Linked DNA regions of Homo sapiens: region 1 is linked to region 2. Evidence: fine-mapped expression QTL. A gene starts in region 2. The other region holds a variant in brackets. All regions are shown on one strand. Distances are between the middles of the regions. Region 1 overlaps OGT (O-linked N-acetylglucosamine (GlcNAc) transferase). Region 2 holds the start of OGT (O-linked N-acetylglucosamine (GlcNAc) transferase).

Region 1 (5,338 bases), 27 kb after region 2:
TGTAAACTAAAACACAAATACAGAAAACTGTAAAAATCAAATCTGTGGCTTAATGAACGATTATAAAGTGAACACCACCCAAGTCGAGAAATAAAACTTTTGTGGGCCACTTCAGAACCCCTTCCATTGTGTCCTGAGTATAACCCCCTGCACTTCATAAGACGGAATCCTTAACTCCTTCACTTAAACACTAATGATAGACTGATGGTACTTTTCTTTAAGTTGAAAGCCATAATTTTTTTTTCTTTTATCTTTTTTTTCTTTTTTTTTTGAGACGGGGTCTTGCTCTGTCGCCCAGGCTGGAGTGCAGCGGTGTGATCATGGCTTACTGCAGCCTTGACCTCCCCGAGCTTAGGTGATCCTCCCACCTCAGCCTCCTGAGTAGCTGGGACTACAGGCGCATGCCACCACACCTAATTTTGTGTTTTTTGTAGAGATGGGGTTTTGCTATGTTGCCCAAGCTGGTCTTGAACCTCTGGGCTCAAGTGATCTGCCCACCTCGCCCGGCCAAAGTGCTGGGATTACGGGTGTGAGCCACCGCGCCTGGCCAGCCATCATGTTTAATGGAGTGCTTGGTATTTTGTATTCACCTTTGAGAATTAGAGCAGTACTTGATCAAGGATTGGATCAAAGGTTGGATAATAGATTGGAGTGCTAGGTGTACTTTTTTTTTTTTTTTGAGACATAGTGTCTCTGTCATCCAGACTGCAGTGCAGTGGTGCCATCTCAGCTCATTGCAACCTCTGTCTCCCAGGTTAAAGTGATGCTCGTGCCTTAGCTTCCCGAGGAGCTAGGATTACAGGCGTGTGCCACCACGCCTGGCTAATTTTTGTATTTTTAGTAGAGATAGGGCTTTGCCATGCTAGGCTGGTCTCGAAATCCTGACCTCAGGTGATCCACCTGCCTCAGCCTCCCAAAGTGCTGGGATTACAGGCATGAGCCACTGCCCCCAGCCATAATTTTGTTTTTAGAAAATGTTTCCCTATAGAATTTTCTAAAATGCGGGAGGAAACCATGCTCTGTCCATACTGCTTCATACCTACAAGTGTTAGATTTGCTCGTACTTTTTTTTTTTTTTTTTTTTTTTTTTGAGACAGGGTCTTGCTCTGTTGCCCAGGCTGGAGTGCAGTGGCACAACCTTGGCTTACTGCAACCTCCACCTCCCAGGTTTGGGCGATTCTCCCACCTCAGCCTCCCAGGTAGCTGGGACTACAAGCATGTGCCACCACGCCCAGCTAATTTTTTTTTTTTTTTTTTTTTTAGTAGAGATTGGATTTCACTGTGTTGGCCAGGCTGGTCTCGAACTCCTGACCTCAAGCGATCCACCTCCTTGGCTTCCCAGAGCGCTGGGATTTGCTCATGCTTTATAGATCTCAGGAGCAGGTCAAAGTATGAAGCATATTACATAAAGTGCTGAGGTTGCATCTCTCTGGCAATATTAACTAAATGCTCTGGGCAGACCTTTTTCAACAGGTGTGAGGTATAGGTTTGGTGTGTTTTTCGTCAGTTTTCCTAGATGAAAATTTATGTAGATTTTACTAACAAGCATTGGATTCTGTTGATAGATTAATGTTCTTCATAAACCACCATATGAACATCCAAAAGACTTGAAGCTCAGTGATGGTCGGCTGCGTGTAGGATATGTGAGTTCCGACTTTGGGAATCATCCTACTTCTCACCTTATGCAGTCTATTCCAGGCATGCACAATCCTGATAAATTTGAGGTAAGACTAGTGTTTCTCTAGAATCACTATTTGTTTAAAAAAGAAAAAACCCACAATGTTGGCTTGTCACCATGAGGCATGGAAACCTAGTGTCTTTTGGAAAGATTTGAGCCAGAAAGATTTGAGCCAATGTTATTAAATATGCCATGTGCTGCCTTTCAGGTGTTCTGTTATGCCCTGAGCCCAGACGATGGCACAAACTTCCGAGTGAAGGTGATGGCAGAAGCCAATCATTTCATTGATCTTTCTCAGGTAGATGAAACTCTCATACTTTAACTTTTTATTTTGAGCAAGTTTAAATAAAACTATTAGCATATAGTTTATTTTTGATGATAAGTATTAAATGCTGTAGTACCACATATAGGCAATTGTGTTGATCTTATTTCCTTGATCATTTGTGTTAATCAGCATGGCTTTTTCCGAGGTTGCAAATGAAACTGAAATGTGTTATGCTTGTGCTTGGACATACAACTTTTCTGGAGATTGAGCCAGCACTTGTGACAGAAGATACTTAATAAATATTGACAAAATGGTGACTTGGGAGAAGAATAAATAGGTCTTTTAAAGAAAATAGGGCCGGGTGTGGTGACTCATGCCTGTAATCCCAGCACTTTGGGAGGTCGAGGCGGGCAGATCATGAGGTCAGGAGATGAGACCATCTTGACTAACATGGTGAAACCCCGTCTCTACTAAAATACAAAAAATTAGCTGGGTGTGGTGGTGCATTCCTGTAATCCCCGCTACTTGGGAGGCTGAGGCAGGGGAATCGCTTGAACCCGGGAGGCGGAGGTTGCAGTAAGCTGAGATCGCACCACTGCACTCCAGCCTGGCAAGAGCAAGACTCTGTCTCAAAAAAAAAAAAAAAAAAAGAAAAAATAGATGAACTATGGTTCATCAGTTTCCATGGGCCTTTGCCTTTGGTTATCTTTATTTCTGTACTTGTTCTATTGTTGTATCCTCTAGGAGAGTAAGTTTTATGATAAATTAAGATTGAAACCTATGGGGGAATTAATTTGCTGAGTATGTAGGCTACAGTGTTTTCTTTGTAGACTCTATTAGCCACTTTGACTAATAGAGATAATATACTCTTTATATGTGTGTGTACACACATGTATGTATGTACATACACATGCAGGTATGATATGTATGCATATAT[G/A]TATAAATATACATGTGTATGTGTATATATATATGAATCACTGAAGTCCTAGCAGAAAGGTTTTGAGACTTCTCATTTAATAAATAGTATGTACTAACAAATTTTGCAGTATAGCTGTTGCTTCAAAAGTATACCTGGCCATTTTTGATACACAGTTGGACTCTTTGTGACCAAGAAGCATACCTCTTTCTACCTCTGAGACCTTTAGGGACTCACTGCTGATTGATTGCAGTCTAAACTCTTCAGCATAGCTTTTGTAACCTTTCTCTGTTTGCCACAACTTTGTCAATACTTTAACTCACCATTCAACATCTTGTATACCCTATACTAAATAGAAGTGAATTACTCACCCTTTTTTTTTTTGAGATGGAGTTTTGCTCTTGTCGCCCAGGGTGGAATGCAGTGGCACGATCTCGGCTCACTGCAATCTTTGCCTCCCAGGTTCAAGCGATTCTCTTGCCTCAGCCTCCCGAGTAGCTGGGATTACAGGCGCCTGCCACCACACCCGGCTAATTTTTGTATTTTTAGTAGAGACGGGGTCTCACCACATTGGCCAGGCTGGTCTCGAACTCCTGACCTCAGGTGATCCACCTGCCTCGGCCTCCCAAAGGGCTGGGATTACAGATGTGAGCCACCATGCCCGGCCTACTCACCATTTTCTAAACTCCCTCACACTTTACTCTAGTTCTTCATTCATACTGTTCTCTACTGAGATTGTATTCTGTTAAACTCCTTCAAACTCCTATTCGTCTTTGAAGACCTATTTTCAAATACCAATTCTAGGCTGGGTGCTGTGGCTCACGTGTATAATCCTTTGGGAGGCTGAGGTGGAAGGATTGCTTGAGACCATCATGGGCAACATAGTGAGACCCCATCCCTACCAAAAAAAAAAAAAAGATTACAAATTTCAAATACCAATTTCTCTGTGATATGTTGTTATTCATACATTCAATCCAGAAGTGAACTCTCCTTCCTTTGTGTTCTGTTTCTTTAATGCTTTGGGCCCATTTTAATGACAGTCAACCATATTTGTGCCCGAATTAATGTAGTTAATTTGTGTTCTTACCTCTTTTCCATCTGGGAATCTGAATTATGTTAAATGCCATTAAAACTAAATGCCATTAAAACTAAATGTCATTAAAACTAATTGATCTGAGATTATACATAGTGAGTTCTTATTTTGTATTCTGTAGATTCCATGCAATGGAAAAGCAGCTGATCGCATCCATCAGGATGGAATTCATATCCTTGTAAATATGAATGGCTATACTAAGGGCGCTCGAAATGAGCTTTTTGCTCTCAGGCCAGCTCCTATTCAGGTAAACAAATTAACAGTCATCACTTATAACATGTATTTGGCTAAGAATACAGTGAGGTGCTGCTTTTCCTCCCTCTGGTTAACTGATATTTGAAACTGTAGGGCAGACATACTTTTAATTTTTTTAAGTTGTTGAAATGCACAGGACAAAAAGAGTGTAGAGCACAGTGCTTATAGGTACATGTATATAGAGACATGCAATTCATGGTTGGCTATGAACAGTTACTCTGTCTTGCAAATTTGAAGAACATTTTAGCATTTTGAAAGTTAGTCTGAAATACAGGCCGGGTATGGTGGCTCACGCCTGTAATCCCAGCACTTTGGGATGCTTAGGCAGGAGGATCTCTTGAAACCAGGAGTTTGAGTCCTGCCTGGGCAACAAAGCAAAACACCCTATCTCTACAAAAAATTAAAAAATTAGCCAGAGTGGTGGTGTGCCTCTGTGATCCCAGCTATTTGGGAGGCTAAGGTGGAAGGATTGCTTAAGCTTAGGAGTTTGAGGCTGCAGTGAACTATCACTATGCCACTGCACTCCAGCCCAGGTGACAGAGTAAGAGTCTCTCTTATAGAACTGCTTCATTGCTTTCGGCTAAAGAAGTCAGCCTTGCTGTGCGTGTGGCAAGTGCCTGTAATCCTGGCTACTCTGGAGGCTGAGGCAGAAGGATTGCTTGAGCCCAGGAGTTTGAGGCTGTAGTGATCTACGATTGCACCACTGTATTCCAGCCTAGGGAACAGAGTGAGATCCTGTCTCTAAAAAAGAGTTAGACCTCCTTGTTTATTTACTTATTTAATTTTGGCACCTTTAGGTTCTTTTTTTAAAAACCACTTTATTGAGGTACAGTTGACATACAAAAAGTTGTACATATTTAATGTATGTGACTTGATGAATTTAGAGGTAAGTGTACTGATAAAAGTTCTTAATCAGTTTTTGATCTGATTTTTTTAAGGCAATGTGGCTGGGATACCCTGGGACGAGTGGTGCGCTTTTCATGGATTATATTATCACTGATCAGGAAACTTCGCCAGCTGAAGTTGCTGAGCAGTATTCCGAGAAATTGGCTTATATGCCCCACACTTTTTTTATTGGTGATCATGCTAATATGTTCCCTCACCTGAAGGTAGGTATGAAACAGTGCTATG
Region 2 (5,377 bases):
CTTATTTGTCCCCACCCATGTCCTGCTGATTGGTCCATTTTACAGAGTGCTGATTGGTCCATTTTACAAGGTGCTAATTGGTCCATTTTACAGAGCGCTGATTGGTCCATTTTACAGACTGCTGATTGGTCCATTTTACAAACCTCTAGCTAGCCACAGAGCACTGATTGGTGTGTTTTTACAGAGCACTGATTGGCGCATTTTACAAACCTCTAGCTAGCCACAGAGCGCTGATTGGTGCGTTTTACAATCCTAGCTACAGAGTGCTGATTGGTGCATTTTACAATCCTCTTGTAAGACAGAAAAGTTCTTTAAGTCCCCACCCAACCCAGGAAGTCCAGCTGGCTTCTCCTCTCACATCTATGTATTTCTTTGGCTTCATTTAACCTTTGGAGCCATTTTTTTTCAGCAGCAGTGCAACAGCAGCCACCAGCCCGGGTCTCATCCAGCGCTGGTGCTACTGCTGTGAAATGTGTGTTGTTCTGAGCAGCTGTATTTGTGATACTTTGTTACACAGCAGCAAAAAAAGTAATGCAACATCAGTGGTGTTACTGGGTGACAAAGTTTGGGATTGGGGTTGAAGACCCAGCTGATTTAATTATAATTGGTTCTAAATTTAAAATTGCACATAAAAAAAACCCAGAAATCAATGTGAACAACAATAAAAAACATACAAAAGCACTTCCTTCAATGTCTAGATCAAGGCTTCTTTCTCACCCCCTCCAACCTTACCTGTTTCCTCCCTAGATATTCATAGAGAGTAATATATTTTATCATCTAAATAGTCTTCTGTATTGCTCTCTAGTAGCTTTTTGTGTCTACCTAACTAGGCTTCAGATTCCTTGAGGGCGAGGATTTCTGTTCATTTTTGTGCCCCCCACAGTGCCTTGCACATAGAGACTCTAGTAAATGTTACTTATTGGCTGAAGAATTAGGAACATGACCTGCATTTAACAACAAAAAGAGTTTTTGTTAATTAGCTAGCACCCGCTCATCAGCAAGGCCTAAACATCTGCCAGTGGAATCTGAGAAGTCTCTTCTAAAAGTTGAAAAGCTGAGTTTACTCATTACAGATAGGGAACTTGTAGTAGGTGTGTGTGTGCGGGGGGGAGGTTTTACCAGTTAAATCAAATTACAAGAGGTTGGTGCTCAATTTTCAGGAGAGTTTGTGTAGTGATTTTTGTCTTTTTCACTGCATGATGTGACTCTTGATTATGGGATGGAAGAAATTAGCATTATGAATTTTCTCTGTGCCATTTCCATAATTAATTGTTTGTTGACTGTTTTGAAGAAATTTAAGCAGAATTTGAGGACTTAGTTTTAAAAAATGTAGTGAAGGGGCTAGGTAGCAAAAACTTTTTGAAGAAATTCATTGACCTGCTTTCTTAGATCAAGGACTTTTTGAAATAAAAAGGCTCTCAGAGATCCAACTTGTAGCCTCCAGTGGCTTGTAATACTTTCTTGCTGATGTGGCAAGCTACCTTAAGTCGTTTCTAGAACAAGAGGTGAAGTATAAATACCAATGTGACAAAATGTCTGAACAGTAGACTTGAAACTGCAGGAAGATCGTAAGAACCGATTTGTTCAAGGAAGTAGAGGCAATTCATGACTCAATCTAGACGTGTGGTTTAGGCAGATGGCAAGTGAATTCATTTATCATTGTTGATCTGCTTTGAGCTCAGTGGAATCGCCGACTGTGACAATGTGCAGAGCTAGCTGGTGGAAATGAAGTCACAACTCGAGGAGAGTCATGGATTTTGACGAACGTGAATCACCTTTAACATTTTTATGGCTGCCTTCGGAGTGCAAACGCCCAGCATGTCCCTGAGTTATTAAACATTTGCCCTATCACCGTGGGCAGGAGTATTCTGAATACCAAAACGATTTTGAAATTTCAGGCTATACGGCCAACATTGAAGGTGTCTGCATTCAACTGGCCCTGTGAAAGCTTCAGTCTTTTTCATCGAAGTGCTGAAATCGATGGCCGAGTCACAATGAAGACGGGCTCAAATCGGAACCCTCTCGCTCCTCGTTTTGAGCAGCTGTCTTTGAGAGGCAATCTTCTGAATTGACTGGCTCAGAATTGATCCGTGAGAGTCGTAACCATCCGTTTTTGTACGAATACAGTTGATAAACTTTTTTAGACGCCTTTGGCATTTATGTTTAAAACGACACCACCTGCTAAGTAACAAACACTCTTCTTAATCGCGGTGGCAAAAACGTATCCGTCCCGTGTGTGTTTGTTTTTACCCTTCCGCTACACTCTTAAGAAACTTGGCCGCTTCCGCCCCAGAGAGTGCCCTAACCACGAGTCGGGTTGACAGGGCTGCTCGCATGCGCGGTCTCCACCGTGGTGTTTGTCGCAATGGGCGCTGCGCGGAGGACTACATGGAATCTCGACTTTGCAGCTTGAAGTCATTTTGTTGGCGGCGCTGGTTACCGGCTACCTCCGCGCGGGCACTTGATTGTAACAGAAAGTAGTTCCGGCCCATGTTGTTTCGGCCGAGGAGCCGTCGCCGCCATTTCAAGACCGTACTAGGTAGATGGTCAATTAGAGTTCCCAGGGTTTGAAGCCTGTAACTGCTGCCGCCGCTCAAGCCCTCCAGAGCATTGCTACGGCTGCTGCCCTTGTACTACTACCTCCAAATACGTTCTTGCTGGTAGTGGCGGCAGCAGGACCAATTACCTCTTTTTTGCTCTCCCTCGAGAAGCTCCAGATGGCGTCTTCCGTGGGCAACGTGGCCGACAGCACAGGTACCGGTGTCCCGTTCTACCTTGGCAGATGCCCCCTTGGGGTCTCGCGCCGTCCTCTACCTTGTATCACTCCTTCCCTCCCTTCCCTCGAACCATCCCCATTACATCAGTGACATTGCTAAGCTTTTCGTGGTCTACTGGCATCTGATCACATCGGGTTTTCCGCTGTTGTCCGCTTCCCGAACATTTCCTCCTCCTCCCTTGCTTGCTTTTTGCTGCCTTTCTTGCTTTGTTTTTATTTCGTAAATGTTCTAGCATTCCACTCTCTCCAGGCGCTTTTATCACACGTGCGCGCTTAGAATGTCGTGGAATGGACTGCATTGGAATCCCTGCCCTTTCACTCCTTTGCAGCGGTTTTCTCCCCTAATTCCAGCTCATCGCCTCTCCTTTTTCCCCTCCATCTCCTCCTTCATCTCCCCCCCCAGTCTTTTCCCCTTAGCCAGATTTGGTCCTTCTCTGCCAATCTAGGGCGGGGGTGCCGTTCCGATGTAATCATATCCTCACTTTGCATCACCCGAGGACGATCAAAAGCTCGTCGATGGTGCCACAAGTCACCTCGAGAAGAGGGGACATTGAGCAGCACCCTGCTAGGCAGTGCCTTTCTGGTGTTCTTTCGGTTGAGCGGTCCCGGTTTAGATTGGAAATTTCCAGGGGTTTCCTTTGCCATCGCCCAATTCCACCGCTGCCCTCAGCCTGGATTTCCCACCCTGTCCGCGGGGAACCACACCCTTCCCTTCGCGAGGTTGCCAGCCCTGTTCACTTCCTATCCTTGGGGGAGAAACCACCCCGATGCTGCTGCTTTGGCGTTGACCACCCTGCCCGCCCAATTCTCGCTTTGTGTTACTTTCTCGATGTATTCCTCCGCCGCCGCCTCTGGGTCTGCCATCCCCATTCTTCAGCCCAGTATCTCTTTATTCACAGGGTGTAATATTCTTTTAAGTTTCCATCCCTGCTTGAAGAGTTTGTAAAGCAACTGGAGTGTAGCTGCACAAGTACAAGGCGGTTGCCCTTTTAGACACTTCAGTCGCGAGCATTTGGTACTGAAAATACGAAAACAACCAAATTGTAGGAGTGTCCTTCAGCTGCCTTTCCATATTGAGGCGATTTGGGCGGAAGGGGGTGGGGAATTGGGCTGCGCTTCTGAGGTTTCCCGCGAGGTTATTTTTTGGTTGTTTCTCAGTTGAGATGTGTGGAGGGTTTTAGCTACTGTTCCTGGAAGTTGTGCTGTAAGTAGTAGGTGAATCGTCAATAGTGTCTTATCCGTAATTGTAGGGAGTGGGATTAATAATTAGTCCGTGCTCCTCTCCCCACGTCTCCACCGTGATTTTCAAAGGTTTAAGATTCTGTACTGGATTCTGTACTAGCTTGCCCTTTTTAATGTGTTATTTATTTGAGAAAGCTGTCGTTTCAAGTGTTAAAATAGCAGATAAGCGGCATTGAAAAGTGACAAAGTAATGTGTGAAAACAAGGAGCTAGGAAGTTCTAGAGACTTAGCTAAAATGTAATTTTAGTTTCTATTAAAGATATAACCTCTCCCAGATGTGGATGCAAGTCTCAATGCTCTTTGTGTTGGTGGTCAGCTGTGCATTCTGTCAGGAAATTTACTTTGCTTTCCTCAGTATCCGGAACGCTCATCAGCTCTGATGATTGGGGAGCTGGGCTCAAATTTGAACTAGTCACCTTAACCTTGGTAGAATTAAATAATTTGTCCATGGTTTCCCATTTCAACCAGCTAGTGAAGTGCTACGGTCGAATTCCCAGTTTAAGTATTTACAGTTGTGACAAGCAGTTTTTTTTTTTTTTTTTTCCCTCTCTGGGCTTTAGCTATATCCTTTAAAGATCTTTATGTATCTGGATTAAGTCACTTGCAGCGAAGTGCTTTTATTTATTCATTATGTTGCGCTTTATCAAATATATTTTAGCGTCCATCCTCCCTCCCTCCCAACGTTTTGACCATTGCAGTTGCAGGTAACTGCCTGGCTTATATAGGCTTGTTTGCAATGTCTTAATCCTTTAGTCAATACCAGAGCTGTTTGGAAAATGTTAGTGCTAAACCAACGTGGGTGGGATTTAGCCAATTTAGTCTCCTTTTGAGTTTGGGATGGTAGAGGAGCAGTGTAATCTTGGGTCTTTATTTAAAATGTTTGATGACCCCTTTAACTATTTTGGCTGTTGTCAAATGACAAACATCTTGTTTATCAGCTGTTTTAAAAATAGCACTTTGACTTTTTGGTTTTTCCCTTAGGCTCGTTTCTACTTGTCCTTTTAAAGAATTAAATTCTGAAATATACAAAAATTGATATAATTTAAAGAATTAACACATCTGGTGTCCTCACTGAGGTTAAGATTGATAGATTGTTACCAGTACTCCACCTCAACAAATCCAACCTGAAATATGGCACAAAATATTACGTTTCCCAATATGTTATTCTGATATTATTAAGTCTTTGTGACCTTGCAAATCACACGTTTAATATTTTGTTTCTGTATGTTAACTAAGGTATAAGGAATAATGTTCAGTGAATCCTTAGATGCTACCTATGATTTATAATTTAAAAGTACAAAGTATTTTTGGTCATAAAATGTAATCTCATATGGAAGTAAATATTCCTTTCTAGTTTGG

The links. PIP is the estimated chance that this variant, and not a neighbour inherited with it, causes the effect.
Region 1: its variant is fine-mapped to the expression of OGT in whole blood (TOPMed, PIP 0.99).

Annotation. Positions count from the first base shown.
Region 1 is chrX:71,557,702-71,563,039 of GRCh38, forward strand. It overlaps OGT (O-linked N-acetylglucosamine (GlcNAc) transferase), which reads left to right. Exons shown (of 22, transcript NM_181672.3): 13 at 1,566-1,724; 14 at 1,887-1,976; 15 at 4,074-4,199; 16 at 5,146-5,316. Among named protein-coding and RNA genes, the nearest start is that of GCNA, 18 kb to the right of the region's middle. The variant G/A (reference allele first, on the strand shown) is at 2,881.
Region 2 is chrX:71,530,583-71,535,959 of GRCh38, forward strand. It overlaps OGT (O-linked N-acetylglucosamine (GlcNAc) transferase), which reads left to right and starts at 2,522. Exons shown (of 22, transcript NM_181672.3): 1 at 2,522-2,754. The coding sequence starts at 2,718. RefSeq lists enhancers at 1,573-2,772, 2,273-2,612, 2,438-3,096.